4 separate regions of the Homo sapiens genome follow, and regions 1, 2 and 4 are each linked to region 3. The links come from fine-mapping of genetic effects on gene expression. A gene starts in region 3. Each other region holds a variant in brackets. All regions are shown on one strand. Distances are between the middles of the regions.

Region 1 (8,104 bases), 54 kb before region 3:
GAGACCACGGTTAAACCCCGTCTCTACTAAAAATACAAAAAATTAGCCAGGTGCGGTGGCGGGCGCCTGTAGTCCCAGCTACTCGGGAGGCTGAGGCAGGAGAATGGCGTGAACCCGGGAGGCGGAGCTTGCAGTGAGCCGAGATCGCACCACTGCACTCCAGCCTGGGCGACAGAGCGAGACTCTGTCTCAAAAGGGAAAAAAAAAAAAGTTGCAGAGTTAGTAAGGGGATTTCCATATACCTCTCACCCAGTCTCCCAGTCTCCCCCATTGTTAACATTTTACATCACTGGGGCACATTTGTCACAATTAAAACACCAACTTTGGCACATTAGTACTTACCAAGCAAGCTCTAGATTTTATTTGAATTTCACCAGCTTTTCTACTAATGCTCATTTTCTGTTCCAAGATCCAGTTCAGGGTGCCATACCCACTTTCTGCTACTATTAACATCTTATGTGAGGATAGTGCATTTCACAATTCTTTAACCAGTAGTGGTGCATTATTATTAACCAAAGTCTATACTTTCCTCAGATTGCTTTAGTTTTTCCTCAATGTTTTCCTGTTCCAGGATCCCGTCTCCCTTTAGGCTCCTCTGGGCTGTGACATTCCTGTCTTTGATCATGTTGACAGTTGTTTTGTTTTGTTTTGTTTGAGATGGAGTTTTGTTCTTGTTGCCCAGGCTGGAGTGCAGTGGCACAATCTTGGCTCACTGCAACCTCCGCCTCCCAGGTTCAAGCGATTCTCCTACGTCAGCCTCCCCAGTAGCTGGGATTACAGGCATGCGCCACCACGCCCAGCTAATTTTGTATTTTTAGTAGAGTTGGGGTTTCTCCATGTTGGCCAGGCTGGTTTCGAACTCCTGACCTCAGGTGATCCACTCGCCTCGGCCTCCCAAAGTTCTGGGATTACAGGCATGAGCCACTGCACCCAGCCGGTCACACTGACAATTTTAAGGAGTACTTGTCAGATATTTTGTGAATATTCCCTCTTCCTCTATTTTTGGAATAGTTTGATTGAGTAGGATTGGTAGTTTTTTTTTAGATGTTTGGTAGAATTCAGCAGTAAAGCCACCAGGTTCTGGGCTTTTCTTTCCTGGGAGACTTTTTATTAAGGCTTCGATCTCATTACTTGTTATTGGTCTGTTCACATTTTGGATTTCTTCATGATTCAATTTTAGTAGGTTGTCTGTGTCCATGAATTGATCCATTTCTCCAGATTTTCCAGTTTATTGGCATATAGTTGCTCATAGTAGCCACACTAATGGTGCTTTGAATTTCTGCAGTATCTGTTGTAATGCCTTCTTTTTCTTTTCTTTTCTTTTTTTTTTTTTTTTTTGAGACGGAGTCTCGCTTTGTAGCCCAGGGTGGAGTGCAGTGGCGTGATCTCAGCTCACTGCAAGCTCCACCTCCCGGGTTCATGCCATTCTCCTGCCTCAGCCTCCCGAGTAGCTGGGACTACAGGCACCCGCCACCACGCCCGGCTAATTTTTTGTATTTTTAGTAGAGATGGGGTTTCACTGTGTTAGCCAGGACGATCTTGATCTCCTGACCTCGTGATCTGCCCACCTCGGCCTCCCAAAGCGCTGGGATTACAGGCGTGAGCCACCGCGCCTGGCCTTTTTCATCTCTGATTTTATATCTTTAGGTCTTCTCTCTTTTTTTCTTAGTTAGTCTGGCTAAAGGTTTGACAATTTTATCTTTTCAAAAAACCAACTTTTTGTTTCGTTGATCTTTTGTATTATTTTGTTTCAATTTCATTAATTTCTGCTTTGATCTTTATTTCTTATTTTCTACTAATTTTGGATTTGGATTGCCCTTTTCTAGTTCTTTAGGATGCATTGTTAGGTTGTTGATTTGGTCAGGTATTTTGTAGAGTGTCACTCAATTGAGTTGTTTTCTTTTTTTTGAAATGGAGTCCCGCTTTGTCGCCTAGGCTAGAATGCAATGGCATGATCTCAGCTCACTGCAACCTCCCCCTCCCAGGTTCAGGTGATTCTCCTGCCTCAGCCTCCTGAGTAGCTTAGATTACAGGCAAGCACCACCATGCCTGGCTAATTTTTGTATTTTTAGTAGAGATGGGGTTTTACCATGTTGGCCAGGCTGGTCTTAAACTCCTGACTTTGTGATCTGCCTACCTCGGCCTCCAAAGTGTTGGGATTATAGGCATGAGCCGCTGTCCTTGGCTTCCATTGGGATTTGACTGATACTTTTCTCATGATTAGACTGGGGTTATGTGTTCTGGGAGGAAGAGCCAGGAGGTGAGTGCCCTTTTCCTCACGTCCTACAAAGGGGACGTGCTCTCAGGAGGACTAACTTGATGCCTGGCTGAGGCAGTGCCTGTCAGGTTTCTTTATAGCAGAGCTACTGTTTTCCCCTGCATTTGATACTGTGCTCTTTGGAAGGAGGTCACTCTGTGCAGCCCATGCCTAAGGAATGGGGAGTTAAGCTCCACCTCCTTCAGGGCAGGGCATCTTCATCACTTATTGGAATTTTCTACCCTGGAGATTTGTCTCTTCTCCATTTATTTATTCATTCATTTATATCAGTATGGATCCATGGATCCTGTATACTTTGGGTGTAATCCAATTCTACTGTATTTTGTTGCTCAAATTGTTCCAGCATTGGCTACTGGATGCCTTTCAGTTATCTCCCATGTCCCTGTGACACACTCCATCATTGTGAGATTTTGAGCACTTCCTTAACTTTCTGGCACCACAAGATGCTCCAGGCTCATCTTGTCTGTTTCCTGTCTTAGACCTAGAATCAGCTGTTTCTGCAAGGAGCCCTGGTTCCTTTCATTGGTGAATGGTATTAGAAACCAAGATCAGGGTGCAAGATGTGCTCAGGGCTGTAGGGTGCTGTTGCTTCTTGGCCGTCTTAGCGGACAGAGCAAGGAAATCTGTGTGTGTACTAACCTGTATGTACACAAATCTATATTTCTATAGGTAACCATCTATGGTACTGTTTTAGCTAAACCTGTTCATGCTAACATCTCCAACTCTAATCCATGGTCATCACATGGATCATTCTAAATACCTCTCCTTGCTCATCTGTAACAGTGGGAAGCCTGGCTCCTACCATCCTCCATCCATTTACTTAGT[T/C]GTTCCCTTTCACTCTGCACGTATGGTGGCTTTAGAATTGTTAACCTTTCTAAAGGCTGGGTATGGTGCCTCACACCTGTAGTCCCAGCACTTTGAGAGGCTCAAGCAGGAGGATCACTTGAGCCCAGGAGTTCGAGACCAGCCTGGGCAACATGGTGAAACCCTATCTCTACAAAAAATACAAAAATTAGGTGGGCGTGGTGGCGCAGGCTTGTAGTCCCAGCTACTCGGGACTGAGGCAAGAGGATTGCTTAATATGAGAAGTTGAGGCTGCAGTGAGCCATGATCATGCCACTGCACTCCAGCCTGGGTGACAGAGCTAGACCCTGTCCCCCCAACCAAAACAAAAAACAACAACAAAAAACCCCACCTCACCCCTGATACCTTTCCAGTCATTCATTTATTTATTGAATGCCCTCTATGCTGGGCACTGTTTTCAACACCATGAACAAAACAAAGATCCCCGCCCTCGTGGAGTTATGTTCTAGTGCAGGAGATGAGCAAAACAATAAGAATGATAGATGGATAAACGATACTTTATATTGAAAGGAACACAGAAAAAGTAGGGCACAGTGAGAACCCTTGGGCCTGATGGAGGTAACTGGGACAAGTGGCAATTCAGGGTGCTCAGGGCAGGCCTTGTTGAGAAGGTGACATTTAAGCAGATTTTGAAGGCAGTGAGGGAGTTAGTCATGAGGACATCAGGGAAGAGTGCTCCAGGCAAGGGGAACATGATGGGGTGGGGACAAGGGGGGAACAAGGGGAACCCTGGGGTGGGGATGCACAGCCCTTCTGCTGTGCCCAGGGAACAGCAAGGCCAGCATGGCTGGAGCAGAGAGAGGTGGGGGTTGGTAGGAGATGAAGTCACAGAGGTGGGAGGGGGGCACCACATTATAGGTGGCCTTGTCAGCCTCCCTGAGGATTCGACTTTTACACCAAATGAAATGGGGATCGTAAGAGTGACACTCTTTGTCTTAAGGACCCCTGTGCTCCTGTGCTGAGAAGAATGTAGGGGCAGATGTGGAGGCAGGGAGGCTGTTGCTGTCACACAGGCCCAAGGCTGTGGAGGCTCACACCAGGGTGGTAGAGGAGGATGGTGAGGAGTGGTCGGAATCTGGTTGTGTGTTAAAGATGGGGCCAGCAGGACTCACCAGCAGCCTGGATGAGGGGAGCGATAGGGACAGAAGAGTTAAGGCTGGTTTCGAGACTTTGGGCTCAAGCATCTCAAAGGATAGCATTGCCACCAACTCTAATGTATGGAGAAGGCTTGGGAGGAGGGTCCAGAATTCAGACATCTCAGTAGAGGTGTCCAGTAAGTAGGCAGCTGAGTATCTGAGTGTGACATTTAGCCTGGAAGTGATATATTTGGGCATTGTCAGTGTTTACAATCAGGAGACTGGCCAGGATCACTGATTTAGTTTTTGCTGCTGCTGTAACAAAGTACCATAAACTTTGTAACTTAAAACAGCACGAGTTCATTATGGTTTTTCGCCCCCAACTCTGTCACCCAGGCTGGAATGCAGTGGCATGATCACGGCTCATTGCACCCTTTACTTCCTAGGCTCAAGTGATCCTACCTCAGCCTGCTTGAGTAGCTGGAATGGAAGCCTGGCTCCGTGTCCAGCTACTTTTTTTCTTACTTTTTGTAGAGAGAGGTCTCCCTGTGTTGCCTAGGCTGGTCTCAAATTCCTAGCCTCAAGCGATCCTCCCGCCTCGGCCTCTCCAAGTGCTAGGATTACTGGTATGAGCTGCTATGCCTGTCCTATTATCTCACAGTTCTGCATGTCAGAATTTCAAAATGGTCTTAAGGCGCTAAAATCAAAGTACCAGCAGGATGACATTCCTTTCCAGAGCCTCTGGGGGAGAATCTGTTCTCCGCCTTTTGTTTTTCCTCATGTTTCTAGAGGCCTCCTCCTTGGCTCATGGCCCCTTCCCTTGTCTTCAAAGCCAGCAGTATAGCCTCTTCGAATCTCTCTCTGACTCTGGCTCTCCTGCCTCTGTCTTTCCCTTATGAGGTTTCTTGTGATTACACTGGACCTACCCGGGTAATTCAGGACAATCTCCCCATCTCAAGGTCCTTCATTTAATCATATCTGGATAGTCCCTTTTGCTACATAAGGCAGCTTATTGACAGGTTCCAGGGATTCACACATGAGCATCTTTGGGGCCATTATTTTGCCTACCTCAAGCACGAAGGGGATGATGGAGAGGAAGAGAGTGCCCAGGACCAAGCATTAAGAAGTCAGGAGCTGGCTGGGTGCAGTGGCTCATGCCTGTAATCCCAGCACTTTGGGAAGCTCATTTGGGCGGATCACTTGAGGTCAGGAGTTCAAGACCAGCCTGGCCAACATGGTGAAACCGCGTCTCTATTAAAAATACAGAAATTAGCCAGGCATGGTGGTGCATACCTGTAGTCCCAGCTACTCAGGAGGCTGAGGCATGAGACTCGCTTGAACCCAGGAGGCAGAAGTTGCAGTGAGCTGAAATCACGCACAGAACTCCAGCCTGGATGACAGAGTGAAACTCCATCTCAAAAAAAGAAAAAAAAAAATTCAAGAACTCAAGAGTTTGAGACCAGCCTGGCCAACATGGCAAGACCCCATCTCTACAGAAAATACAGAAATTAGCCAGGTGTGGTGGTGCACACTGTAGTCCCAGCTACTCAGGAGGCTGAGTCAGGGAATCACTTGAGCCCAGGAGATTGAGGCTGCAGTGAGCTGAGGTCGTGCCACTGCACTCCATCCTGGGTGACAGAGCAAGACCCTGTATCCAAAAAAAAAAAAAAAAAAAATCAGGAGCTGAGGAGGAGCAGCTAGGAAGGTAGGAGGAACCAAGAGACCTGGGTCCAGGAAGCCCGGTGGACAAAGGGCACTGGGGAGGGGGTAAGCAGCAGCTGTGTCAATCACATCAGAGGTCGACTCAGAGGTCACCCATGGACATGGCAATGTGGCAGTTACTGGCGACCTTCAGAAGAACAGTTTGTGTGTAGCAGTGGGGGCCAGGCAAACCTGGTGGGAGTGGGATTTATTTATTTGATTTTAATTATTATTATTATTTTTTTTTTTTTTGAGATGGAGTCTCGCTCTTCGCCCAGGCTGGAGTGCAGTGGTGCAATCTTGGCTGACTGCAACCTCCGCCTCCCGGGTTCAAGTGATTCACCTGCCTCAGCCTCCAGAGTAGCTGCAACTACAGGTGCCTGCCACCACGCCTGGCTAATTTTTATATTTTTAGTAGAGACAGGGTTTCACCATGTTGGCCAGGCTGGTCTCCAACTCCTGACCTCAGTGATCCACCTTCTTTGGCCTCCCAAAGTGCTGGGATTACAGGCGTGAGCCACCGTGCCAAGCCTGGGGGTGGGGTTTAGAAGGAACACTGGCCACTCTTTCAAGGACTTTCACTGCCAAAGAGAACAGAAAAACGGGAATGTGGCTGGCAGCGTAACTGGGCCGGGAGAATATTTGGTTTAGTTGGGGTTTGGTTTCCAGCGGGACAGCAGAGCAGGATTGTTTGCTGGTGGGAATGTGCAACAACAGAGAATGACAGATGAGGTGGTTTTGTGGCTCCCAAGCACGATGGTCTGGTGTTCACGAGGGTGTGTAAGATGCACCTCCCTCAAACCTTGTTACAAGGTTGGCATGTTACCCGTCTGATGTGAAAAAAAAAAGAAAAATAGACGAGACTGAGGAGGGAGTTGTTTGATGAATAAATGGATCACACCACACTTCTGCAACTTTTGTTCACTTAACCACATATCTCAGCAACATCTCCATGGGTAGTATTGCTCCGAGCAGTTCTGCTTGATTCTGCTTGCATAAATCTATCCTGTTGATCAGGGTCAGTAAATAGAAAGATAATGCAAGCCAGGCAGGTAAGGTGGCTCATGCCTGTAATCCCAGTGCTGTGAAAGGCCAGGGCAGGAGGATTGCTTGAGGCTAGGAATTTGAGACCAGCCTGGGCAAAATAGTGAGATCCCGTCTCTACCCTCCTCCCCCGACCAAAAAAAGCCAGGTGTGGTGTGATGCTCCTGCAGTCCCAGCTACTTGGGAGGCTGAGGTGAGAGGATCACTTCAGCCCAGGAGTTCAAGGATGCAATGAGTTATAATTGCACCACTGCACTCCAGCCTGGGCAACAGAGTGAGACTATATCTCAAGAAAGAAAGAGAAAGAGTAGAGAAAGAAAGAAATATAATGCAAGAAACAAATGTGAGCTCTATGTCATTTAAATGGTGTTTTAATGTTTTATTTAACTCAGTATATCCAAAATATCATCACTTCAAGTGGTCAATATAGAATGGTTGGGCTACTTTACATACTTCTCTTCATACCTAGTCTTCGAAATCCAGGGTGCATTTCATCCTTACAGTGCACCTCAGTTCAAACAAGCCACGTTTTAAGTCAGTGGCCACATGTGACTCGAGGCTCTATTGTGGTCAGCACAGCCCAAAAAAAACTCACATAGCTTTGGGAGGCCGAGGCAGGTGGATCACAAGGTCAGGCGTTCAAGACCAACCTGGCCAATATGGTGAAACCCTGTCTCTACTAAAAATACAAAAATGAGCTGGGCGTGGTGGTGGGCGCCTGCAGTTCCAGCAACTCAGGAGGCTGAGGCGGGAGAATCACTTGAACCCAGGAGGTGGAGGTTGCAGTGAGCTGAAATTGTGCCACTGCACTCCAGCCTGGGTGATAGAGCAAGACTCTGTCTCAAAAAAAAAAAGAAAAGAAAAAGAAAAGGATCTCACATAGATGAGCAGAGGCTACATACGAAACAGATGATCGCAGTGCTGCTGGTATAACCACAAAGCTAGAGCCAGCCTCACTGTACCCTGGCATGGGGCTGACAATGTATATATTGTGGCTTTTTGCTTTTAAAAGCATTAAAAGGAAACATTCATTTGGGTTTAATTCGTTTATTTAAATTTTTTTTTTTTTTTTTTTTGAGACAGGGTCTCGCTCTGCTGCCCAGGCTGGAGTGCAGTGGCGCCATCTCAGCTGCAACGTCTG
Region 2 (8,104 bases), 20 kb before region 3:
TTAACTACCAATTTAAAAAATTCGCCAAACATGGAGTTGCAAAGAAATCAAATACTATCTATGGTTTTCATCCCTTCCTAAAAGAAAAGATAATTAGCTGGTGCACGTGTGTTAGCTCCTATCGTCAGATGGAAGCTGGTCCCTGAAATGCCAAGTGCTGCTCTGGATGCTTAAGAACTCATTGAGAGATGCATGCCCGGGGACAGGAAGTAGCCATGCAACTGTGAGGTGGCAGATCTGGGATTCAAGTCCTCAGGGGCCGGCTCCCCCATCTGTACTTTGCATCCCTAAGGCCAGTGGTCCTCAAACATCAGTAGGCACCAGTGCCACCTGCAGCACCCACCTGGAGCTCCAGTAGCCGGGGTGGGCCTGAGAATGGTCATTCCTCACCTGTCCCCAGGTGGTGCCAGTGCTGCTGGCCCCAGGCCACCCTTCAAGAACTGCTCCTCATGGGGGCTGAGCAGGGTGGATCTGCTTGTAATCCCAGCACCTTGGGAGGCCGAGGCTGGAGGATCTCTTGAGGCTAGGAGTTCAAGACCATCCTGGACAACACAGCGAGCCCTCATCTCTAAAAGAAAAAAATACACACATGCAAACATACATATGTGCATACACATGTGCAAACACACACACCTAATGCACATACACATACATGCATATATACATGCATACATACACATACATACACGTACATACACTTACATGCATACACGCCTGCATATACACATGCACGCACACATGCATGCATATACACATGCATGCATACACAGACATGCATACACACATGCATATACACATACATGCTACACATACACATGCATATGCATATACATGCATAAACATACACATGTATAAACTCATACATGTATACGCACATGCATGCACACATACATGCATACACAAATGCATGCACACATAGTTGTATACACATACATGCATACACGTTTACATGCATACACATACATGCATACACATACATACACATGCACATGCATATGCACATGTACATATGCATACATACACACATGCTTATACGCGTACACGTATACACATACATACGCACATGCATACACACCTACATGCACACGTACATGCATTCCACCACTCTCTGCTCTCCTATGCCCCAGATGGGCTTCTGCTTTATGAAAAACCTATTCACTTGTTCTGGTTTCTCTTTTTCCTTTGAAGATGTCAGGGAGCAAACCCATTCTGGGACCCATCACATGAGACCTTCGATTGGGGCTAGGACACCAGGTCTGGGGCTCCCCCACTTCCAGGGCTGTGTTCTCATCTGACAAGATGGTGACCTCCACTGTCTCCCTCCAGGAGGCCAAAAATGTGAGGAGGGGAATCCAGAGAGATGCTTGGTGAGGAATTTTCCGGAAGATGGCCAGTTCCCTCAGGCAGTGTTAGCACTTACTGAGGGTCCGGGGTGTCCAGACATGATTTTCCCTTTGTTTTTTTTTGGTTTTTTTTTTTTTTTTTTTTTTGAGATGGAGTTTCATTCTTGTTGCCTAGGATGGAGTAAATGGTGTGACTTGGCTGGCTGCAGCCTCCGCCTCCCAGGTTCAAGCAATTCTCCTGCCTCAGCCTCTGGAGTAGCTGGGATTCCAGGTGCCCGCCACCATGCCCGGATAATTTTTTGTATTTTTAGTAGAGATGGGGTTTCACCATGTTGGCCAGGCTGGTCTTGAACTCCTGACCTCAGATGATCCACTTGCCTTGGCCTCCCTAAATGCTAGGATTACAGGCGTGAGCCACCACGCCCAGCCCCGACACCATTTTCTGTATTGATCTATCAAATTTTTGTTGAGAGCTTTCTAGGTTCCAGGCAGCCACTGTTCTGATGCTTTACATCAACTCATTTAATTTCCCTCATGAGGTAAGAACTGTCATCCCCATTTTACAGGTGAAGAGACAGGCACAGAGAGGCTGAGTTATTTGCCTGAGGTCCCACAGCAAGTAACAGGCAAGGCCAGGATTCCAGGCCAGGCCAGGAGGCTCCCGGCTCTCTGTTGGCCCAGCCCTGGTCTTCTTAATGAGATCCCAGATCAAGGCTGGGACGAGGGGAGAGCTGTGCCTGGCACTGCTGCTTGCTTTCCAGGTGTAGTGGGTTAAAAGTGTCCCCAAAGAGATAAATCCACGTTCTAACCCCCCCAGAACCTGTGACAGTGACCTTATTTAGAAGATGGGTCTTTGCAGATGTCATTAAATTTAGGATCTGAGGATCTGGAAACGAGAACATGGGTGGACCCCAAATCCCATGTGAGGTGTCCCTGGAAGAGAGAGGCAGAGAGAGATTTTGGACACAGACACGGAGGCGAGGAGGCCCTGTGCAGATGGAGGTGGAGGCTGGAATCACACAGTTCCAAGCCAAGGAATGCCTGGAGCCACCAGAAGCTGGAAGAAGCAAGGAAGGGGCCTCCCTTCCATCTTCTGGAGGAAGCAGGGCCCTGCTGAAACCTTGACTTCAGACTTCTGGCCTCCAGAACTGTAAGAGAATCAAGTTCTATTGTTTTAAGCCACTGAGTTCATGACTTGTTGCTTGTGGCCTCGGGAAACTGACATCCTGGGTAAAACTCCTCCCCTCTCTAGGCCTGTGTCTCTTCACTTCTGTGCCCACCATGCAGCTCCTGGGTCCCCTGCTCACTGGTCCCTGACACCAGCTGGCCAGGGACCCCTCAGTACCTGTGGGGAGTGCGGTGGGCCGGCGGCCTTCCAGAACTGCATTGGGCAGGCCCCGCCAGGTTTATGCCTGGAGCGGCCTCCCTCGCCTGATGCACTGGGCTGGGATCAAGAGGCATGAGCTCTGCTGCAGACCCCACTGACCTTGGAGAAGACGTTGCCCTCTGGGCCTGTTTCTTCTGGGAGATGGGAGCCCTGTCACCTGCTAGGTTTGCTGGGAGGGTTCACAGGGTTCTTTAAACATGGCAGGGTCTCAGTCTGTTGTGGACGTCATTGTCATTGGTTTATTACCTGTCTGTCTGTCTGTCTATCTATCTAATCTATCTATCTATCTATCTATCTATCTATCTATCTAATCTATGGAGATGGGGTCTTGCTGTGTTGCCCAGGCTGGAATGCAGTGACGCAATCATGGTTCACTGCAGCCTTGACTGCCCAGGCTCAAGCAATTCTCCCACCCAGCCTCCCAAGTAGCTGGAACCACAGGCTCATGCCACCACACCCAACTAAGTTTGTTATTATTATTTGTATAGATGAGGTCTTGCTATGTTGTTAAAGCTGGTCTCAACTCCTGGGCTCAAGCAGTACCCCCACTTCGGCCTCCCAGAGTGCTGGGATTACAAACATGGTATGTTGAGCATTTAAAATTTCAAATTATTTTATTTTATTATTATTTTTTGAGCCAGAGTCTCGCTCTGTCACCCACGCTGGAGTGCAATGGCATGATCTCGGCTCACTGCAACCCCCCTGTTGTGGGTTTGAGCAATTTTCGCGCCTCAGCCTCCCAAGTAGCACCCACCACCATGCCCAGCTATTTTTTGTGTTTTTGGTAGAGATAGAGTTTTACCATGTTGGCCAGCCTGGTCTCAGACTCATGACCTCAAGGGATCCACCCGCCTTGGCCTCCCAAAGGGCTGGGATTACAGGTGTGAGCCACTGTGCCCGGCCTATTTTATTTTACTTTATTTTATTTACAGAGACAGAGTCTCACTATGTTGCCCAGGCTGATCTTGAACTCCCGGGCTCAAGCAGTCCTCCCTCCTTGGTCTTCCAAAATGCTGGGATTACACGTGTGAGCCACCATGCCAGGCCCATTGTTATTCTTTTAATGAGCTTTTTTCCTGAGCCCCTACTATGTGCTTGGCTGGACATGAAACCCTTCTCAAGGAAATAAGGTTTGTCTGATGCTAATAATGAACTTCATTTTAGTAATGAGGATTCTGAGGTCCAGAGAGGTTAAGACTTTTATGGAGGAGCACAAGCTGGCCCAGGACCTCCACACTTTAGTGCCCTGTAACTGCTGGGAGCTTCCTGGTTGGATGGGCAGGGGAGAGCTGGCGATTTGGCATGTTGGGACAGGGGGAAGAGCAGGCAGAAGGGTGTTCCAGGCCGAGGGCACACTCCAGTGAAATCCAGGAGTGTAGACTTTGATGC[C/T]GGGTAAGGCTGGGGCAGCAAGGGGCCCGGAAAGTGCCACTGGCTGCAGTCAAAGTGGCCTGAGCAAGGTGTTCTCTGTGTTTCTGAGGCTGACCTCTGTGAACTCAGAGAGAGAAAGAGAGAGAAGGGATATTGGTGTGCGCTTGTGTGCATGTGTGCACAACCATGCGGTCTGGCAGGCTTGTGGGACAGTGCCCATGTACAAGCAGCTCTCTTGTGTGTGCAGGGCTGCTTGGAGGCCATGGTCCTGGGCTCTTGGGTGTGTGTGAGTGTGTGTGTTTCCACTGGTGGAAAATGGGTGTATCTCTTGGCAGGAGCTGGGAATGTGAGTGGGTCTGAGGTCCAGGGAGAGCAAGCCTACGGTTGCAAGTGGGCAGACTACGTGAGAGGGGTCTGGGAGCCTTTGTGTCTGTGTGCATGCGTATGTGTGCCTGCGCCTCAGAGTGTATGCATGAGTGGATGAGTGTATGCACACCTGTGTATGCAGTCATGCACACACATGCATGTGTGTGTATGTGCGTGTATATATGCTTATGTGTATGGGAGTGAATGTGCCGCCATGTGTCTGCTTGTGTCTGCAATAGCCTGAGTGTGCATGCGTGTGAGTTTTGCTTTCACATTCAGTGCTAGTCAGAGGCTCCAATTCCTGTAAACCTCATGGTCTCATCTTCCAGCAGACATCCCACAGCAGTGGCAGTGGGCACCACAGCCTAGGCTTGATCTGACTTATGGCTTCCCCTTTTCAAGCCTCTGGTTGCAGGGTGTAGAGGGGATGTAGGTGAAGGCAGGACACCCGGCCCCCAGCTGGCCGCAGGCCCCACCATCCCTGGCATCTGCGGCATGAAGCCACCCATGGGAGTCTGAGGGAAGTCACATTACTGGGACTGGCCAGGGTAGAGCTGCCCTGGGAAATGTGGGTTCACTTTCATTCTACTGAAGGTGAAAATCAGATCACGCCTCTCCTCTGTCTCTCTGAAAACCCTCCAAAGAGTCCCTGTTGCATTTCAAGCGAAACATGAGTCTCTACCCAGTATCTCAGATGTCACCAGGGCCCTGCTGGCCAGAAAGACTTGGGAAGGAACCACCCATGGTGTATCCACTGTGTCACTCTTGGCTTCGAGTCCCTTCCTGTAAAAGCTGAGTAGGAAGTCCTTGCAGGGGGCAGGGATGATTGCGTGCTTGTGGCCGTTCCTCTGTCCAGTGGGTAGACACTGGGAGGCTCTGGAGACTTGGCCATGAAGGAGACAGCCCTCCCGGTGGGCCAGAGCCTTTTCCCTTTCCATATAGCCATATGCGATAGTAAAGAGCGGTTGCTTCTCCAGGCTTTAAAAAATTTTTTATTTTATATTTTATTTTTTGAGACAGGGTCTTGCTGTGTTGCCCAGGTGGAGTGCAGTGGTGCAATCACCACTTACTGCAGCTTCAACCTCTCAGGCTCAAGTGATCCTCCCACCTCAGCCTCCAGAGTAGCTGGGACCACAGGTGTGCACCACCACACCTGGCTAATTTTTTAATTTTTTCTAGAAACAGGGTTTCCCTGTGTTGCCCAGGCTGGTCTCGAATTCCTGAGCTCAAGTAATCCTCCCACCTCAGCCTCCCAAAGTGCTGGGATTACAGGCGTGGGCCCCCGTGCCCAGTCCCTCATGCCATTTCTGTGCCACTAGGAAGTAACACTGGCTAACCAGGTTGACATTTCTCTTGTTCCCAGAGTGAAACGAATGAGTGCTTCTTCTTTAATCCTGCAACTACCCCACATGGTCAGCACTTATATTTTCACTCTTACTTGGCAGATGAAGAAATTGAGTCCTGTTAAGGAACGTGCTTAGGATCACATGCTAGGAGGTGGTCGTGCTGGAATTCAAATCCAGGCAGGTGCTAGCTTGAGAGCCACTGCTCTATAAAGCCCTTCTCAGGCCTCCACTCAGGCCAAGGGAGGAGGAAGGGCCCTCAGGCAGGAGCAGCGTGAGCAAAGGTCTGGAGCTGGGACTGAGCATGGCATGTCAGGAGAGAGAGACAAGAGCTCTGTGGCCATGGGGAGCAGCGTGAGGTCAAAATGGAGAGGCAAGAGGAGGGAGGGGTGTGGAGGTCCCTGAATGCCAGCATGAACGCTCCGGGCCTTCTGTGGGGTGGGCGGCACGGGAGAAAGGGAGTCTAGCCAGCTCCGGCTGGGTGCCCTGGCTCAAACCATCCTTGCCTCAGGCAAGGACACCTGCATGGACCCAGTCGCTCAAGTCCCAAACCAAGTCCATCCTTGAGTTCTGTCTTTGTCTCCCCTCATCGGGCCGTGGGGAGTAGAGTGAAACCGCAGCTGCAGCCTCCTGGCTAGTCTCTCCACTCCTCTGCCCCCACAGCCCAGTCTCCACGCGGCGGCCAGGGGCGTCTACTGAAAACGAAAATCAGGTCATGTCTCTCTCTTTCTCTTTCTCTCTCTCTTTTTTTTTTTTTGAGATGGAATCTCCCTCTGTTGCGCAGGCTGGAGTGCAACCACCTCCCGGGCTCAAGTGATTCTCCTGCCCCAGCCTCTCAAGTAGATGGGTTTATAGGCCACCCACTACCACGCCCGGCTAATTTTTGTATTTTTGGTAGAGACGGGGTTTTGACATGTTGGCCAGGCTGGTTTCCTGACCTCAAGTGATCCTCCCACTTTGGCATCCTAAAGTGCTGAGATTACAGATGTGAGCCACTGTGCCCAGCCTCCTCTCTCTGTCTCTCCCCACCCCTCCCCTCAAAAATGCGCATTCCTGGTACATTTAAAGCAAAATCCAAATTCCTTTAAGTGGCCTGTGAGTCTCTACCTGATCTTGCCTCACCGACCTCTTGACTGCATCACTGACTGCTCCCCCATCACTGCGCACCCATACTGGCCTTTCTGTTCCTCATACACACAGGGTCGCTCCCGCTGCAGGGCCTTAGCATTCGCCATTCCCTCTGGTGGGAGTGGCCCTTCCCCAGCCCACCAGCCCCTTCTGTCATTCAGGTCTCAGCTGAGGGAGCCTGTGCAGATAAGCCCCTCTCCCCACCCCTCCTGGTTTATTTTCTTCATCTGCATGTGCTTAGCACCCGAAATTGTCTCTTGCTCTCTCCCCATCCTTCACCAGATTATAAACTCCATAAAAGCAGGGTCTTTTGTTGGTTTTGTTCACCGCTGCATCCCAGGCATTCAGTGAGCACTTGTTGAGTGAAGAAATCAGACTCAGTCTTCCCCTCTGTAAAATGGGACCACATCAAACCTCCTGGCAGGGTAGTGGTGTGGCTCAGAGGTAACGTTTGTACACAGTTGGACTTCTTCCCTACTGGCCCAAGGACTTACCTGGCCACCCCTCCTGGAACCCAGCCTCCTCCAGCTCCCCCAAGCCCTCTGCCTTGGGAGCGGACACCTTAGCAGAAGGGCCGTCCTCCAGACCCTTTGCAGCCAGGCCTCTCTGCTCACAGATCCCTGAGGACATCCGGAGGTTGGTGCCCAGAGCCTAGCCCCAGGCTCATGCAAATTCTGTCTTCCAGTTCAGCAGCTGTGGCCTCCTTCACTCGGCCTTTTAAAAGAAATTCTTGGGCTGACTCACACTTCCTTTGTCTCCAGCTGGGTTCACTCAAGTGTCGCTGTTTTGCAAGGCTGAGGTTTGAGTCCCTCAGAAGCAATCTCTGATGCAGGGGCGCTGTGTGCTTCATTGAACTTCGAATGAAGGTCAGGCCCCCCAGAAAACCTCATACCAGGACAGTTGGGAAACTACCCCTCACTGGTGGTCAGGGCATTCTGGGTTGGAGAAACTGCTTTGGGGCTTTGGCAGGTGTTCATTTTGTCCATCCCCCTGCCTCCCACCTAACCCCATCCCAAACTCACTCAAAAAAATGCCCCTACTGCCCTGGGGGGTGCATTTCAACGTCTCATGTACCCCGCTTTTCCTTCCTTCCCTGTGAAATCAGGCGTTTGGATTCAGCGCACTGCTCAGAAGGTTTGTTTCTTTCTGTGCAAACACGTGGAGTGATG
Region 3 (8,095 bases):
TCGGGGAGGCTGGCACAGGGGGTTGCTTCAGGCCTGAGTGTGAGGGTGATGGATTGTGGTGTGGGGGAGGGGGGATAATCCTCCCTAGAGGGGAGGCTTACCCAACATGTGTCAACAGACCCCACTTGTCTGCTCATGACTGTAATTTAAAATGCTGATTTTGCAACTCTTGGAGCTGGTGGAACACTACAGCCCCTTGGCTATTTTGCAGGAGATTTAAGGACCTGCACGTTAGTGAACATGCAGGCTGCCTTGGTGCCTGAAGCAGAGGTCACGTTCTAGAGAGAGTTTGCAGATTGGAAGCCCACGGGCCAGAGTCAGTCCATGGATGACTTTCTGGGGCACATGGTTTGTTTTTGTTCCTTTGTTTCAGAATTGAATTGTTTGCCAGCATTTTTTTTTTAAACATGGAAATTATACATGAAAATGTCTTGAGCTGGGCGCGGTGGCTCACGCCCGTAATCCCAGCACTTTGGGAGGCCAAGGCAGGTGGATCATCTGAGGTAGGGAGTTCGAGACTAGCCTGGCCAACATGGTGAAACCCCATCTCTACTAAAAATACACAAAATTGGCCGGGCGTGGTGGCGGGCACCTGTAATCCCAGCTACTTGTAAGGCTGAGGCAGGAGAATCACTTAAACCTGGGAGGTGGAAGTTGTGGTGAGTTGAGATCGTGCCATTGCACTACAGCCTGGGCAACAGAGTTAGACTCCATCTAAAACAAAACAAAAACAAACGAAAAAAAGAAAATGTCTTGAAAAATCAGATCTAGCAACAATGGGCCCACAGTCCTGCACGACAACCACCGGCTGAGTGTGATGGACCCCTGTTGCCGGGACATCAGAAGGCCAGTTTGCCCCTGCTACACCAGGGTTACCTGTCTGTCTGCTGCTGACAACTTAGTTTGAGAACCCAGGCTTTACTGGTAAGATAGACACAGACACAACTATTTATGGCTCAAAACAGAGGGCAGTGAGTATTGTAGCTTAGGACAGTGGTTCTCCATAGAGGTGATTTAGTACCCTAGGGGACAGTGGCAATGTCTGAAGACATATTTTGGTTGTTGCAACTTGAGGAGGGTGCCATGGCATCTCGTGGGTGGAAAGCAGGGGTACTGCTCCATATCCTGCAGTGCACACGACAGCCCCCACGACAAAGATTATCCAGCCCCAGTGTCAGTAGGGCTGAGGTTGGGAAACTGTGGATTAGGGGCACCACCAAACTGGTCTGGAAGGAAGAGGTTAATTCCAGTGGTGGGGCTCAACAAAGGCTCTGTGAAGAGAAGAGGTCTTGCTGCTGAGCAGGCACTTGATGACTAAGCCAGGTTTCAACTGAGAGCGACTGAGGGGGAGGCATGTCAGGCAGAGAACAAACAACACAAGCAAAGGTCTAGAGGCACCTTTGATGGGTGGAGGTGGGTGAGAGTGTGAACAGTGAGATGGAGCCTGTAGTTCAAGATACATGAAGTTTGGGGTCAGGTGGATTTGGGTTTGAGTTCTGACTCTGCCACTCACTAGCCATGTGGCTTCAGGCTTGTCATTGGCTTGAACCTCAGTTTCATCATCTGTAAAATGGGGATAAGACATGAGGTTATGTAGAGCCAGACTCATCTATCCCCAGTCCTCCATTTCTACTCTGTGTCCCAGCCATCCTTAACTACTGGCAGTTTGCTACATGCTTCTTGCTTTGTCTCCCCTGTCTGGCCCCTCCATGTGCAGTTCCCTCTGCCTGGAATGCTCACATGCCAGATGTGTGGATTACACCATCAAGGTGTTATAAACCCGGTGCTGACATGCTAAGACTTGTGTTTTGAAAAGATCACTCTGCCAGCAACATGGTGTTGGGCTTGTGGGAGCAGGTGCAGGGAATCTGGAGGCCAAGGGAATGATGGGGGATTCCCAGGCTCATACAAGAAGCCTGGGGGCTTCTCCCTTCACGCTAACTCCCTTCTCCGTCACTTCTCTGTCCTTAAGGTACCTCGGGGGAAGGTCAGTGAGGACCCACCAGGCATGAACGGGTTGGATTCTCTCTTGGTTAATGTTCCTGCTCCTTTCTCAGCCTAGGAGCCTGGTTACTTCATAGGTCAGGGTTGAGGTGTTGTATTAGTCTGTTCTCACACTGCTATAAAGAACTGTCCAAGACTGGGTAATTTATAAAGGAAAGAGGTTTAATTAACTCCAGTTCCGCAGGGCTGGGAGGCCTCAGGAAACTTACAATCATGGCAGAAAGGGAAGCAAACGTCCTTCTTTATGTGGCAGCAGGAAGAAGTAGTGCCGAGCAAAGGGGGAAAAGCACCTTATAAAACCATCAGATCTTGTGAGAACTCACTCACTATCACGAGAACAGCATGGGAGTATCCGCCCCCATGATTCAATTACCTACCACGGGGTCCTTCCCACGATATGTGGGGATTATGGGAAGTACAATTCAACATGAGATTTGGGTGGGGACACAGCCAAACCATATTAGGTGTAGAGGCCAAAACCTCATAGAGGCTACTGAGAGTCTATGGGCCAGCCCTCTAGCTTCCTTAAGCCTCAGTTTCCTCACCTGTGTGGAACAGTCTTTTCAGGGTCTGTGGGGGTACATGGGATACTTCCTACAAAGTTCTTACAATAGGACCTGGCTCAATTTTATAAAAATGAAGCTCTTGGCCGGGTGCGGTGGCTGACGCCTGTAATCCCAGCACTTTGGGAGGCTGAGCGGGCAGATCACGAGGTCAGGAGTTTGAGACTAGCCTGGCCAGTATGACGAAACCCCGTCTCTACTAAAAAATACAAAAATTAGCCAGGCGGGTGGCGTGTACCTGTAGTCCCAGCTACTCAGGAGGCTGAGGCAGGAGAATCACTTGAACCTGGGAGGCGGAGGTTGCAGTGAGCTGAGATGGCACAACTGCACTCCTGCCTGGGTGACACAGCGAGACTCCGTCTCAAAAAAAAAAAAAAAAAAAAATCAAGCTCTTGCTGAATACTCTCTGAATGCCTGGTACTGCAGGAGGCCCTGGGAACTCAAAGTTTCTCTTAAGAACTGACCTTGACTTTAAGGATTGCCTGATTTAGGATCTGTGGACTTTGCTGACTGGGGACATCCAATTTTTAGGGAGAGATTCCTGGGAATTTTATTTGAAGGATGCACAAAAAGATTTAGCTTTTACGGGTGGATCACGAGGTCAGGAGATCGAGACCATCCTGGCTAACACGGTGAAACCTCGTCTCTACTAAAACAAAGTACAAAAAATTAGCTGGGCGTGGTGGCAGGCACCTGTAGTCTCAGCTACTCGGGAGGCTGAGGCAGGAGAATGGCGGGAACCTGGGAGGCGGAGCTTGTAGTGAGCCCAGATGGCGCCACTGCACTCCAGCCTGGGTGACAGAGTGAGACTCCGTCTCAAAAAAATAAATAAATAAATAAATAAAAAAGATTTATCTTTTAAGTAGGTCCACAGTGGATATATTTATAAAGTGAAAAATTGGAAATAGCCTTAATGTCCAACTGTAGGATATTGGTTTAATATGTGATAAGACAAATCGAGTATTATGCAGTCATTCAAGAGGAAGCAGATGGATATTTGCTGATACAGAAAGATGTTCATTATTAAGTGAAAACAATATACAAAACACTATTTGTATATCAGTAATAGGCCAGGCATGGTGGCTCACGCCTGTAATCCCAGCACTTTGGGAGGCCAAGGAGGCAGGATTGCGTGATCCCAGGAGTTCCAGACCACCTTGGGCAACATGGTAAGACCCTGTCTCTACAAAAAATACAAAAATTAGCTGGACGTGGTGGTGCACGCCTGTAGTCCGAGATACTTGGGAGGCTGAGGTAGGAGAATCACCTATGCCCGGGAGGTGAACGTTGTAGTGAGCCGTCACTGTGCCACTGCACTCCATCCTGGGCAACAGAGTGAGACCCTGTCTCAAAAAAAATACACACACATATTTTAAAGCCTAAAGGCTAATATACCCCAAAATTAACAGTGGGTATCTATAAGCGGCTTTTACAATTATTTTCTTGTTCTACATTTTTCCCCTATTTTTTTTACAATAAATGTGCATTTCTTGTCTGAAAAATAGCAATATATTTTATTAACCTTAAAATTATTTGATGCTATTAAAATATAACTGAAAATAATAATAAAAGAAAAGGCAAGTTTGCCAGCTCTCCCCGTCTCCCTCCCCAGCCTTATCTCCTGACTGGATTCTTGCTCACTCCCAATAAACACGGACTCTTAATTCGTTTCAGTATTTACTAACCTCAAAACAAGGCAATGTAAAGATGAATAATCATACTCTGTAGGTGATCTGCATCCACGCCAAATTTTGAGATGCGTTGAAAGAGGAAGTTCTTTACCTCTCTGCCTTCAATTATTTATTCTCGTTTAACCCATTTCCTCCGTTCATTCCTAACTTGAGGGCGTTTATTTACTTTTATCTACGCATGCGCACTCCTGGCTGCTAGAGAGGGCCTCTTCGCCCGGCGGTCCCGCCTTCTGACGTCGACCATTGGCCGGCTCTGCCAGCGCGCTCCTGATTGGTGGCTGAGGGCCGGGCCCCGCTGCTTCTCAAAGTTGGCGGGAAAGCGGAGGCGGGGCGGAAGGGTGCGGCGAGGCGGAATGGCGGCGGCTGCGGACTCGTTCTCAGGCGGCCCCGCGGGGGTGCGGCTTCCGAGGTCGCCGCCACTCAAGGTGCTGGCGGAGCAGCTGCGGCGCGACGCGGAGGGCGGCCCGGGCGCGTGGCGGCTGTCACGGGCGGCGGCGGGCCGCGGGCCGCTGGACCTGGCGGCCGTGTGGATGCAGGGCAGGGTAGTGATGGCGGACCGCGGCGAGGCTCGGCTGAGGGACCCGAGCGGGGACTTCTCGGTCCGCGGCCTGGAGCGGGTGCCGCGCGGGCGGCCCTGTCTAGTCCCAGGTAATGCCCGGGCCTTACCGGGCGCCCTCTTCCCTGCTGCCCGCCGAGAAGTTGCCGAGGCCAGATTCGATCTTGTTGTTGACACTCGAACGGGGGCGGGGCGGGTCTGGCCCTCCTCCGGGCCTCTGCCCCTGCGGGTCCCCGCTTGGGTACCCTTGCTCCGGTCCCTCCTTGGTGAAGTTGATCTGATGATAAGCATCACCTGCCGTCCCTTTTACAAATACAGATTCCTGGGACTCTCCCACCCCTAGTGGGAATCTTCTGGGGAGGGACTCCGGCACCTTCGTTTGTCACAAGCCCCCTCTCCCAGTTGATATCCTTGTTTTGGGAAATACTGTCCTGGGAAACTTCTGCTCATCCTTAACGTCTCAGCTCAAATGTGCCTTTCTCAGGGAAGTCCTCCCTAGCCCCTAGGAACGGGAGACCCTCCTGTACTTCTCCTTAATTGAACTGTCTTGGGCTGTAGCTCACTCATGTTTGCCTCCTCTCTTTTTTTTTTTTTTTTTTTTTTGAGACGGAGTCTCACTCTGTCGCCCAGGATGGGGTGCAGTGGCGCGACCTCAGCTTACTGCAGCCTCCACCTCCCGAATTCAAGCGATTCTCATGCTTCAGCCTCCCGAGTAGCTGGGATTACAGGCATGTGCCACCACACCCGGCTAATTTTTGTATTTTTTAGCAGAGACTGGGTTTTGCCATGTTGGCCAGGCTGGTCTCGAACTCCTGGCCTCAAGTGATCTGCTCATCTCGGCCTCCCAAAGTGCTGGGATTACAGACATGAGCCGCTGCGCCCTGCCTGCTTCCTCTCTTAAACCACTGATGCTCAAACTTGAGCCAGCATCAGTCTCTCCTGGAGGGCTTGGTAAAGCTGGGATGGCTGGGGCTCCACCCTCAGGGTTTGTGAGTCAGGAGGTCCAGGTGGGGCTGGAAATTTGCATTTCTAACCAGCTCCCAGGTGATGCTGATGCTGCTGGTCTGGGGACCATACTTTCGACTTTTTAAATGTTTTATTTATTTGAGATAGGGGACTCACCGTGTTGCCCAGGCTGGCCCTGAGCTCAAGCAATCCTCCTGCGTCAGCCTCCTTGGGTAGCTGGGACTACAGGCCTGTACCACCACGCCTGGTTTGGGGGCCATACTTTGAGAACCACTGGGCCAGCCCAAGCTACTGGAGGGCCAGAGCTGTGTGGTCCTGACAACTGTATCCTCAGCATCTGGCCCAGTTCCTGACACATAAGTGCTCCAAGAACCAATAGTCTTGAGTGATAGGCAATGGGCATCCATCTCACTTGTTCCCTGGGATGTCAGTTGAGCACGTGTTGTACATCAGCCCCTCATGTGCAGTGTTGGGCTGCAGCCGAGACCTAGATAGAGTCTGCTGGGAGACAGGCAGTGAGCAAGTGTCGCAGAGGATCGCTGATCTTTGGGGAGCCATGAGGATGTGCAAGGTGCTGAGTGGCCCGGGGAGGCTTCTAGAGGATGTGAGGTCTAAGCTGAGGAGCTCTGAGGCTCCATGGGCCTTCCCTCACCTCAGCTCCCTCTCCTGGGAAATCAGGCCAAGATCACTTCATTCCTAAGGGCCCTTCCTGCTCAGTCTTGGAGTCTAACTAGAGGCAGATAGGGCTGTGGTCTGGCCTGAGCTGCTGTGGACTCGGAAAGGCTTAGGTCGAATTTCTGGTTCCACCCCTTCCCAACTGAGCTGCCTGGAGCACTCTTGTTAACTTTTCTGGACTTGTACTATTTTGTAAAAAGGAGCTAATCATTCCTGCGTGTTGTGTGGATTCAATAAGTAAACAACTGCCTTAGTACTGCACCTGGCTCACAGTGAGGATGCAAAATATCAGGACTCGTTTACTGCCACATGCTCCTGTTCCGTCTTCCCACTGCCTTACCCATCAGCCTTCCCTCTGTCTGCCTGCCCTCAGCCGCAGCGTTGGTCTAGGACAGGGTCAGCAAACTACAGGCCTCCTCTTTTCATGTGTCCTGCGAACTAAAAATGCTTTTAAAATTTTTATGTATTACTATTATTATTTTTGAGACAGAATCTCGCTCTGTCTCTCAGGCTGGAGTACAGTGACGCAGTCATGGCTTGCTGCAACCTCCACCTCCTGGGTTCAAGCGATTCTCATGCCTCAGCCTCCCGAGTAGCTGGGATTACAGGTGTGCACCACCACACCCGGCTAATTTTTGTAGTTCTAGTAGAGATGGGGTTTCAACATGTTGGCTAGACTGGTTGGTCTGGAGCTCCTGGCCACCTTGGCCTCCCAAAGTGCTGGGACTGCAGGTGTGAGTCATTGCACCTGGCAGGATTTCACATTTTTAAATGGTTGAAAAGAAAATCGTGATATGTGAAAAGTATATGAAATTCAAGCATCAGTGTTCATAAGTTAAGTTTTATTGGAATACATTGGTAATTTACAGAATGTCTCGGGCCGCTGTCCCACCCCAGCTAGAATTTTATCTGGGACAGAGACCCTATGGCGGGAAAAGCCCAAAATATTTGTCTCGCCCTTTACAGAAAAAGTTTGCCAACCCTTGGCCTTAGCCTTGGCCCAGCAAGTAACCCATGCTGCTTGGTGTGTTGGTTTGCAGGCAAAGCACCTTGCAGGCAGGCTGGGGCAGTCTCCTATCTGGTCTCAGCCCTGGCATAAGCCTGGCATCTAGTAAATAAGTGTTTGAACCCATGGGCATTGGTGAACCTGTCTGACATACCCACTGGCCTGAATGCCAGCTGGCAGGGGCCATGTCATTTCTTCTTGTTAATTAATACTGAGTCCAGCTTGACAAAATTGAGTCACTGCCATCAGGGAGGCAGGGAGGTAAGCGGGCCACTAAAACACAAAGTAACATTGCAGGCAAGAGTGAGGTGGCGCAGAGGAGGGACAGCTGATCTAGGTTTGAGGGCTCAGGGAAGGCTTCCTGGAAGAGGCAGCCCTGAAGGATGCATTGGAGTTATCTGTAAGGACCAACCCTCCTGGGTTGCCTGGGACTGAGAGGGTCCTGGGACGTGGGACTTTCAGTGTTAAAACTGGGACACTTGGGCACCCTCTGTCTGTGTGCAGTGGCAGGAGATTGTGCAGCTCCATGGAGCAGCCTGTGCAAAGGCTTGAAGGGGATAGAGCCGCGTGCCTTTGGGGAGCCTGGGGCAGTGGTGGAAGGTAGGAGGGCTCTATCCTGATGAGCCTCATTGGC
Region 4 (8,104 bases), 510 kb before region 3:
ACCTGTTTTAAGGGCCGTGAAGGGGTGGCCTGCCCCTCCACACCTGTGGGTATTTCTAGTCGGATGGGACAAGAGACTGAGAAAAGAAATAAGACACAGAGACAAAGTATAGAGAAATAACAGTGGGCCCAGGGGACCCGCGCTCAGCATACCAAGGACCTGCACCGGGCACCGGCACCGGTCTCTGAGTTCCCTCAGTTTTTATCGATTATTATCTTCATTATTTCAGCAAAAAGGAATGCAGTAGGAGGGCAGGGTGATAATAAGGAGAAGATCAGCAATAAACATGTGAGCAATAGAATCTATGTCATAATGAAGTTCAAGGGAAGGTACTATGACTGGACGTGCACGTAAGCCAGATTTATGTTTCTCTCCACCCAAACATCTCAGTGGAGTAAAGAATAACAAGGCAGCATTGCTGCAAACATGTCTCGCCTCCCACCATAGGGCGGTATTTCTCTCATCTCAGAAATGAACAAATGTACAATCAGGTTTTATACCGAGACATTCGGTTCCCAGGGGCAGGCAGGAGACAGTGGCCTTCCTCTATCTCAGCTGCTAGAGGCTTTCCTCTCTTACTAGTCCACCTCAGCACAGACCCTTTACGGGTGTCGGGCTGGGGGACAGTCAGGTCTTTCTCATCCCACGAGACCGTATTTCAGACTATCACATGGGGAGAAACCTTGGACAATACCCAGCTTTCAAGGGCAGAGGTCCCTGTGGCTTTCCATAGTGCATTGTGCCCCTGGTTTATTGAGACTAGAGAATGGCAACAACTTTTACCAAGTATACTGCTTGTAAACGTTTTGTTAACAAGGCAGGTCCTGCACAGCCCTAGATCCCTTAAACCTTGATTTCATACAACACATGTTTTTGTGAGCTCCAGGTTGGGTCAAAGTGGCTGGGGCAAAGTGGCTGGGGCAAAGCTACAAATTAACAACATCTCAGCAAAGCAATTGTTTAAAGTACAGGTCTTTTTCAAAATGGAGTCTCTTATGTCTTTCCTTTCTACATAGACACAGTAACAGTCTGATCTCTCTTTCTTTTCCCTACAGGGCTGTTGGATAGAATGCAGGAGCTAATTTGTTTTTTTTCTTTTTTCTTTTAGATGGGGGTCTCACTGTCACCCAGGCTGGAGTGCAGTGCTGCAATCATAGGTCTCTACAGCCTCCAATTCCTGGGCTCAGGCAATCCTCCTGCCTTAGCCTCCCTAGTAGCTGGGACTACAGGTGCACACCCCACACCCAGCTAATTTTTTATTTCTCATAGAGACAAGGTCTTGCTATGCAGCCCAGGGTGGTCTGGAATAGACTCAAGTGATCCTCCTGCCTCAGCCTCCCAAAGTGCTAGGAGTACAGGCATGAGCCCCTGGGTCTGGCTAGGAGTTAATGTTTTATCACATACTCAGCACATTGCATGCACATAGTAAGTGTTTGCTAAATAAATTATGTCAAGCCACCTTTATTTTCACTCCAGGAGGTAAAGTGCATGGCATGATACCCATTTTACAGATCAGGTGATTGAGGCTCAGAGAGGTTTTGAAGCAGGTGCATACAGCAAACCAGTGGTAGACCCATGAGTAGATATCAGGTCTCCACCTGCTCCCTGCTCATAGCTTTTCCCATCACACAAAACTGGGGTGCACAGTCCCTGCCAAACCTTTAACCCAAGGTTGCAAAGTGCCTGCCCAAGGGTCAACTCTGGGCTCCAGACATGTTTGGGTTGGACCTGCATAGTTAAAAAAAAAAATAGGCAGCGTTCATGGAGTTAATGGCCAGTATTGGAAAATTGGGGCCAAGTGTAGTAGCTCACGCCAGTAATTCCAGCACTTTGGGAGGCCAAGGCAGGAGGATCTCTTGAAGCCAGTTCAAGACCAGCCTGGGCAACAAAGCGAGACCTCATATCTATTTATAAAAAATAAAAATACTAACCAGGCGGGGCATGGTGGCCTGTGCCTGCAGTCCCTGCTACTTGGGAGGCTGTGGTGGGATCGCTTGAGCCCTGGAGTTCAAGCCTGCAGTGAGCTGTGATCACATCACTGCTCTCCAGCCTGGGTGATAGAGTGAGACCCTGTCTCTTAAAAAGAAAGGAAAGAAAAGAAAAGAAAAATCAGATGTCACTTTTTTTTTGAAGTCTGTACTTCTGTTTTTTCTTAAGGAAGCTCAGGTGACATGGAGCCTGAATTCCCTGTGGTGGGAGCTGAGCGGTGCTATCCCCCCTTAGATGGGGTTGCAGAGTCGAGCTCACCACCCCCAGACACCAGTGTGCTCACTTCATTCTCTGCCACTGGCGAGTTTGCCATTGCTCCTGAAAACCTACTGTTGTAACCTGGGCATGGTGGCTCATGCCTGTAATCCCAGCACTTTGGGAGGCCAAGACACACAGATTATCTGAGGTCAGGAGTTTGAGACCAGCCTGGCCAACATGGTAAAACCCTGTCTCTACTAAAAATATAAAAATTAGCTGGTTGTGGTGGCACATGCCTGTAATCCCAGCTACTGAGGAGGCTGAGGCAGCAGAATCACTTGAACTTGGGAGGCAGAGGTTGCAGTGAGCTGAGATTGTGCCATTGCCCTCCAGCTTGGGCGACAAAGCGAGACTCTGTTTCAAAAACAAACAACAACGACAAAAAAAAAAAACCCGCTGTCAGGTGGGATTCCCCAGAAGCAGACCATACCCTGCATGAGGGTGCATGAGCACCTTAGGGATTAGGCAGGGCTCTGGGGAGGGTCGGAGAGATGGGCTGAGAGGCAGGGAGGCCACACAGGGGTGTGACAGCAGACAAAGGCCCTCAAAGGTGTATCAAAAAGTACCAAAAACTGAGTGGCTTAAAAATCAGAAATTCATTGTCTCCCAGTTCTGGAGCCTGGAAGTCTGAGATTAATGTGTCTACAGAGCCCTGCTCCCTCTGCAGGCGCTAGGGAAGGATCTGTCCCCAGCATCTCTCCTAGTTTCTGGTATTTTCTAGGCTGTGGCTGCGTAATCCAATCTTCACATGATGTTCTCTCTGTATGCGTGTCTGTGTCCAAATTTCCCCTTTTTATAAGGACACCGGTCATATTGGATTAGGGATCCACCCTACTCCAGTGTGACCTCATCTTTCTAATGATGTCTGCAATGACTCTATCCCCAAGTAGGGTCACATGTTAAGGTACAGGAAGTTAGGACTTCAATATAGGAATTTTGAGATGAAGGACATAGTCAACCCTTAACAGAAGGTAACTGTGGCTCACCCCACAGGGGGTTCTCAGAGTCTCCAGTGGGAGGGGGGAGCTGGGGTATTTATACTCTCCTGTCCATCTTGCCCTTGCCCCATTGGCTCTAGGAAAACACACAGGCAAAGCAGGTTCCAACATCATGAGGAGTGTCTCTAGCTAAGAGGTGCAGGGGCTGCTGTTGGAAGTGAAAGCTCACCAGGACCTGGTGGGAATGAAGATGGTGACAGGATCCGAGGGACTGTGGGCTCCTGCCAACCACCATCATGGTGACACAGAGGAAAGAGTCTTTACTCCACCTCTGTCATCCACTACCTTGGTGGGAATTGACCAGTAGGGTGGCCCTAAATGAGTCACTGGCCTCTCTGCCTTACTTTCTCCACATACAGTCCACACCAGCTGGGACCAGAGCTGCTAGGAAAAAGAATGGATGATGCCCACTCACCCCCATCCATGTGCACCCCAACCCAGCTGGCGCTTGGGGAGTGTCAGCAGGTGGAGGTGGTAGAGCCCTCATACCTATCAGCATCAACTCACTTACAGAGGGACTGAGGAGCCCCTGGGAGAAACAGGACCCCCAAATCAGATAGCCCTCCCCATGAGTGAGCTCAGGATATTCAAACACAGGTCTTGAAATGCGGCACCTGGATTCTTGGCCAAGGTACCTCGAGGACTGGATTTTCATTTCTCAGCCTCACTTGGCCTTTATACCTCCGAGACGCTGCATTCACCATTCATAATTTTAGCTCAGTTCACTTGGAAAAACCCAACCACAAAGCAGAGAACTTGAGAAAGGCCCCAGTCTGCATTTGGTGGGTCCAGGCATGGCCACTTCTACCCAAAGGGTGGTGTCAAGGCCCCTCCCTGTGTTCTGCCACAGCCAGGAGACTTTCATCCAACTGTAGCCAGGGGACTTCCGCTCATGGGAGTCACCAAACACCCTTCTTTTATTTTTTATTTTTTTAGAGACAGAGCCTCACTCTGTTATCCAGGCTGGAGTGCAGTGGCACAATCACAGCTCACTGCAGCCTCGACCTCCTGGGCTCATGCCATCCTCCTGCCTTAGCCTCCCGAGTGGCTGGGACAACACAGGTGCATGCCACCAAGCCCAGCTAATTAAAAAGTTTTTTTTTTGTTTTTTTTTTTTAGAAACAGGGTCTTGCTATGCTGCCCAGGCTGGTCTCAAACTCCTGGACTCAAGTGATCCTCCCACCTTGGCCTCCCAAAATGCTGAGACTATAGGCATGAGCCACTGTGCACAGCTGAAATGCCCCTCTGAAGCATATGGGGTGGGACTTCTTGGCCTCATTTTCCAGATAAGTGGCTGAATCTCAGAGAAGAAAAGGGACTGGCCAAGGCCACCCAGGGGGGTGAGACCATCTCTCCTCTTTCATCTTGTGCCCTTCCCTACAATCCCACCTCCAGACCACATGCAAAGTGAGCTTGTTGCCCAGCAGTAACTGGATCC[C/T]GTAGACGCCTGCTCAAAACTTTCTTGAGGCTTCCCTGCCTACACAGTTGAATCTCAGTGCCACGTGGCCTGGCCCTGGCGACTTCTCCCCCACTCTCAGCCCCTGCCACTCTATCTTCCTCTCCAGCCCGGGCCACACCACCCACCGTCCTTGGTAGCTGCTCTTGGAATGCACCAAAGTTGACTTGGGGACTATGCCCTCGCCGTCTCCCTTGCCTGGCACACCCTCCACACGCCTTGGTGACTATGCCCTTGCCATCTCCCTTACCTGGAACACTCTCCACACGCTTTGGGGACTATGCCCTCGCCATCACCCTTGCCTGGCATGCCCTCCACATGCCCTGGCATGCTCATCACACGGCCAGCTCTTCCATGTCCTTCAGGTGGCAGCTCAGAGGTCACTTTCTGGAGGAGCCACGGTTGGTGCCACACTAGGACCTTATGACACTCACTCTCTGGCAAACACCTGGGACTCTGCCTGGGGGCTGTCTCTGTCTTCTAGAAGCCTCAAGACCCAACAGTCAAGGCCAAAGGTCTGGAGTGGTGAAGCCCCCAGATGCTGCACCCAACCATTGACTTTCAGGAGCTGATGTACCCCCAATCATCCAACACATCACTCCATCAAGTTCCTTCCCATCTTCATCTGGAAGTATCCAGGTGACTTGCTTGTTGACTATGTGTTTCCCCAACTCGAATGTAAGCTTCTTGAAAACAGGTTCATGATCACCCTCTTCCCCCAGTCCATGTCCCCAGCCCCAGGACAGCTCCTGACTGATAGCAGGTCCCCTGTACATAATTGATGAATGAATGAATGAATGAATGAATGAATGAGTGGGTGATGGAATAAGTCAATGAACCCCAATCCAGTGCTCCTTCTCCCCTCTTCCTCAGCTCTCACTGGAGCTAGAAAACAAAAATCTACCTTCAACCATCTCCTGACTCAGCCCCATCCCCAAGGAGGGGCTCACACCCTGGTCCCTGGGAGATTTTTTTGTTTTTGTTTTTGTTTTTATAAGATCTACACCCAGCCTCAACCCTGAACTCTGAATGAATTCGTCTGGCAGGGGGACCCAGGCAGCAGCGTTCTTAAAAAACTGCCCAGGAGGTGCCAATGTGCAGCCAGGGTGGAGAACCACTGGTTTAGAATTTGGGGAGTAGGGGAGGACCCAGACAGAATCCAAGGTTCTAGGGTGGCCAACTCTCCTAGTTTCCCCAGACCAAGGGGATTCTCAGGAGGCAGGCTCTGCAGTGCTAAAACTGAGATAGTCCAAGCAAACCAGGATGAGTGGGTCACTCTACGTGTTCCCCATGCCACCTGGATAACAGACCAGCCAGCCACACCGCTGCCCTGGCCACTTCTAGAGGTCCAAGTCTCTTGAGATCCCCACTGCCTTGTGGAGAGGGCCATGAATCCTGCTCTAGACCTTGAACATCAGAGGAGGGGAAAGGGCCACAGACGGACAGCATGGGGTGAGATTGGAACCACGGCTCAGGCAACTGATGCTGATGAAGATCAGGCCATCCTTCCTCCTTTCCTCACCCCCACCCCAACCTAGGCAGGTGTGATTCTAACAGAGGGAGCTGGGCTTTCCCATGTGGCTTGTGGGCAGTGCCTATTCATTGTGAGAGTCTTTTGGGGTCAGGCTGGATTTGTTTCCGCTTCATTATCCCCTACCCAGGCCTGGCACATATTAGGTGCTCAGTAAACAGAGGCACGATACTAAAGGCATGCAAGAAATTGATCACCATGTCAGCTGGGAACGACCTAGCTTTTTCACCCACTTTCCTCACTGCACACACCCAGTGTCTGCTATAGTGTCAGACACAGTGGAGATGCTCAATGCCTGTTTGTTGACTGAACAAAAGAAAACATTGACAGCTTTTCCAAACAGGCTTCTGTCTCACTCCAGCCTCTTGCCCATTACTCTGTTGGGGATTTGGGGGCCTTTTCCTCACACCCCTTGGTCTGAGTATTCATCCAACCACATGAATAAAATTAAACTTTTATCTGTTCTGTTATGTAGGGCAAAACTACCAGCTGACCCTAATATCTTCTTACATCAGATGAGGATTTTTGGCTGGCTCATGGTCCTATCAGCTAAAGATCACCCTTCTTGGCCTCCCCTGCAAGGAGTATGGTAATGTAAAGTAAAGCTAATAAAGTAAGTTGTGCCACTTTGGGATTATATTTTCCCTCTGATAGAATGCAGTTGTGATGGTAGGAGCTGGAGCAGCCATGTTGAATCATGAGGTGGGAGCCATGAATAAAGATTGGGAAACCAAGAAAGAGAGGGAAGCTGAGACCCTGCCCTATAGAGCCCCCTTATCTGTTCTGAATAGTTGATACTTGGACTGTTACCCAAGAAAGAAATACATTTGTCTCTGCCTGGCCTTTGTCACAGCAGCCATACCTATATCTTACCTTATTTTGAATCATGCAAAAAATGGGTAGATGGATATTTGTCCACTGTGGTGTCGTGTTTGAGATCTTTTGGCTTAAGACACTGGCTCCATGACTCATGCATGGGGAAGCCCCCTAAAGAGATAAGCACTTACCCAGGGTACAGAGGAGTAGAAACTAAGCATGAAGAGAGGCTCTCAGGACTGCCAGTGGGAAAAGGGTGCTATGGCTTGGATATTTGTTCCCTACAAACCTCATGTTGAAATTTGATCCCCAATGTTGGAGGTGGGGCCAAATGGGAGGTGTTTAGGGCATGGGGCATGGGGATGGATCTCTCCCTCCCATGGGGTGAGTTCTTGTTCTATTAGTTTCCAAGAGAGCTGGTTGTTAAAAAGAGCCTGGCACCTGCCCCTACTCTTGCTTCTTCTCTGTCCATGTGATCTCTGCACACGTGGACTTCTCTTCACCTCCCACCACAAGTGGAAGCAGTCTGAGGCCCTCACTGGATGCCCAGTCTTGAACTTCCAGCCAGCAGAATCATGAGCCAAATAAACCTCTTTTCTTTGTAAATTACCCAGCATCAGTTATTCCTTTATAGCAACATGAAATGGACCAAGACAAAGGGACTTCAGTATTAAGATACTAAGCATAAAAAATGGCAGTTTCCATAGGTGCCCCAGTGTAAGAGCTACATGGGCAGACACTCCAAAACACAAGTGCTACTTTGCACTGTGCTGCTTCTCCCAGGGCCCAGAGAGATTAAGCAACTTGACCAAGGTCCCACTGGTAAGTGGCAGAGCTAGGACTTAAGTCCAGCTGTGATATGATTTGGATTTGTGTCCCACCCAAATTTCATGTTGAACTGTAATCCCCAATGTTGGAGGTGGGGCTTGGTGGGAGGTGATTGGATCAGGGGGGCAGTTTCTCGTGAATGGGTGCTCATGAACAGCATCCCCTGCGTGCTGTCCTTCTGATAGTGAGTGAGTGAGTTATTGCAAGATCTGTTTGTTTAAAAGTGCG

Direction of the effects. Positions count from the first base shown, and alleles are read on the strand shown. Sizes are in standard deviations (SD) of each study's normalised expression. Not every link is listed here.
With allele T in place of C in region 1, the expression in iPS cells of the gene that starts at base 4,599 in region 3 is lower (large effect, 0.79 SD a copy in HipSci).

The links.
Region 1: its variant is fine-mapped to the expression of RMI2 in iPS cells (HipSci, PIP 0.91).
Region 2: its variant is fine-mapped to the expression of RMI2 in blood mononuclear cells (TOPMed, PIP above 0.99). The same link has a PIP of 0.9 or more in sun-exposed skin.
Region 4: its variant is fine-mapped to the expression of RMI2 in substantia nigra (GTEx, PIP above 0.99).

The regions. Positions count from the first base shown.
Region 1 is chr16:11,286,559-11,294,662 of GRCh38, forward strand. All of the region lies in intron 1 of LOC105371082 (a long non-coding RNA gene), which reads left to right. LOC124903805 (small nucleolar RNA U13) reads left to right here and starts at 6,652; the gene lies at 6,652-6,755. RefSeq lists enhancers at 1-49, 50-550, 98-247. The variant T/C (reference allele first, on the strand shown) is at 3,104.
Region 2 is chr16:11,321,042-11,329,145 of GRCh38, forward strand. All of the region lies in intron 1 of LOC105371082 (a long non-coding RNA gene), which reads left to right. Among named protein-coding and RNA genes, the nearest start is that of MIR548H2, 19 kb to the left of the region's middle. RefSeq lists enhancers at 1-471, 4,818-4,867, 6,305-6,364, 6,455-6,524, 6,585-6,644 and 2 more. The variant C/T (reference allele first, on the strand shown) is at 4,120.
Region 3 is chr16:11,340,861-11,348,955 of GRCh38, forward strand. It overlaps RMI2 (RecQ mediated genome instability 2), which reads left to right and starts at 4,599. Exons shown (of 2, transcript NM_152308.3): 1 at 4,599-4,906. The coding sequence starts at 4,612. All of the region lies in intron 1 of LOC105371082 (a long non-coding RNA gene), which reads left to right. It overlaps LOC105371083 (a long non-coding RNA gene), which reads right to left and starts at 4,352. Exons shown (of 2, transcript NR_135174.1): 1 at 4,253-4,352; 2 at 949-1,563. RefSeq lists silencers at 4,668-4,827, 4,848-4,927.
Region 4 is chr16:10,829,432-10,837,535 of GRCh38, forward strand. No RefSeq gene overlaps it. Among named protein-coding and RNA genes, the nearest start is that of TVP23A, 15 kb to the left of the region's middle. RefSeq lists an enhancer at 4,770-4,899. The variant C/T (reference allele first, on the strand shown) is at 4,684.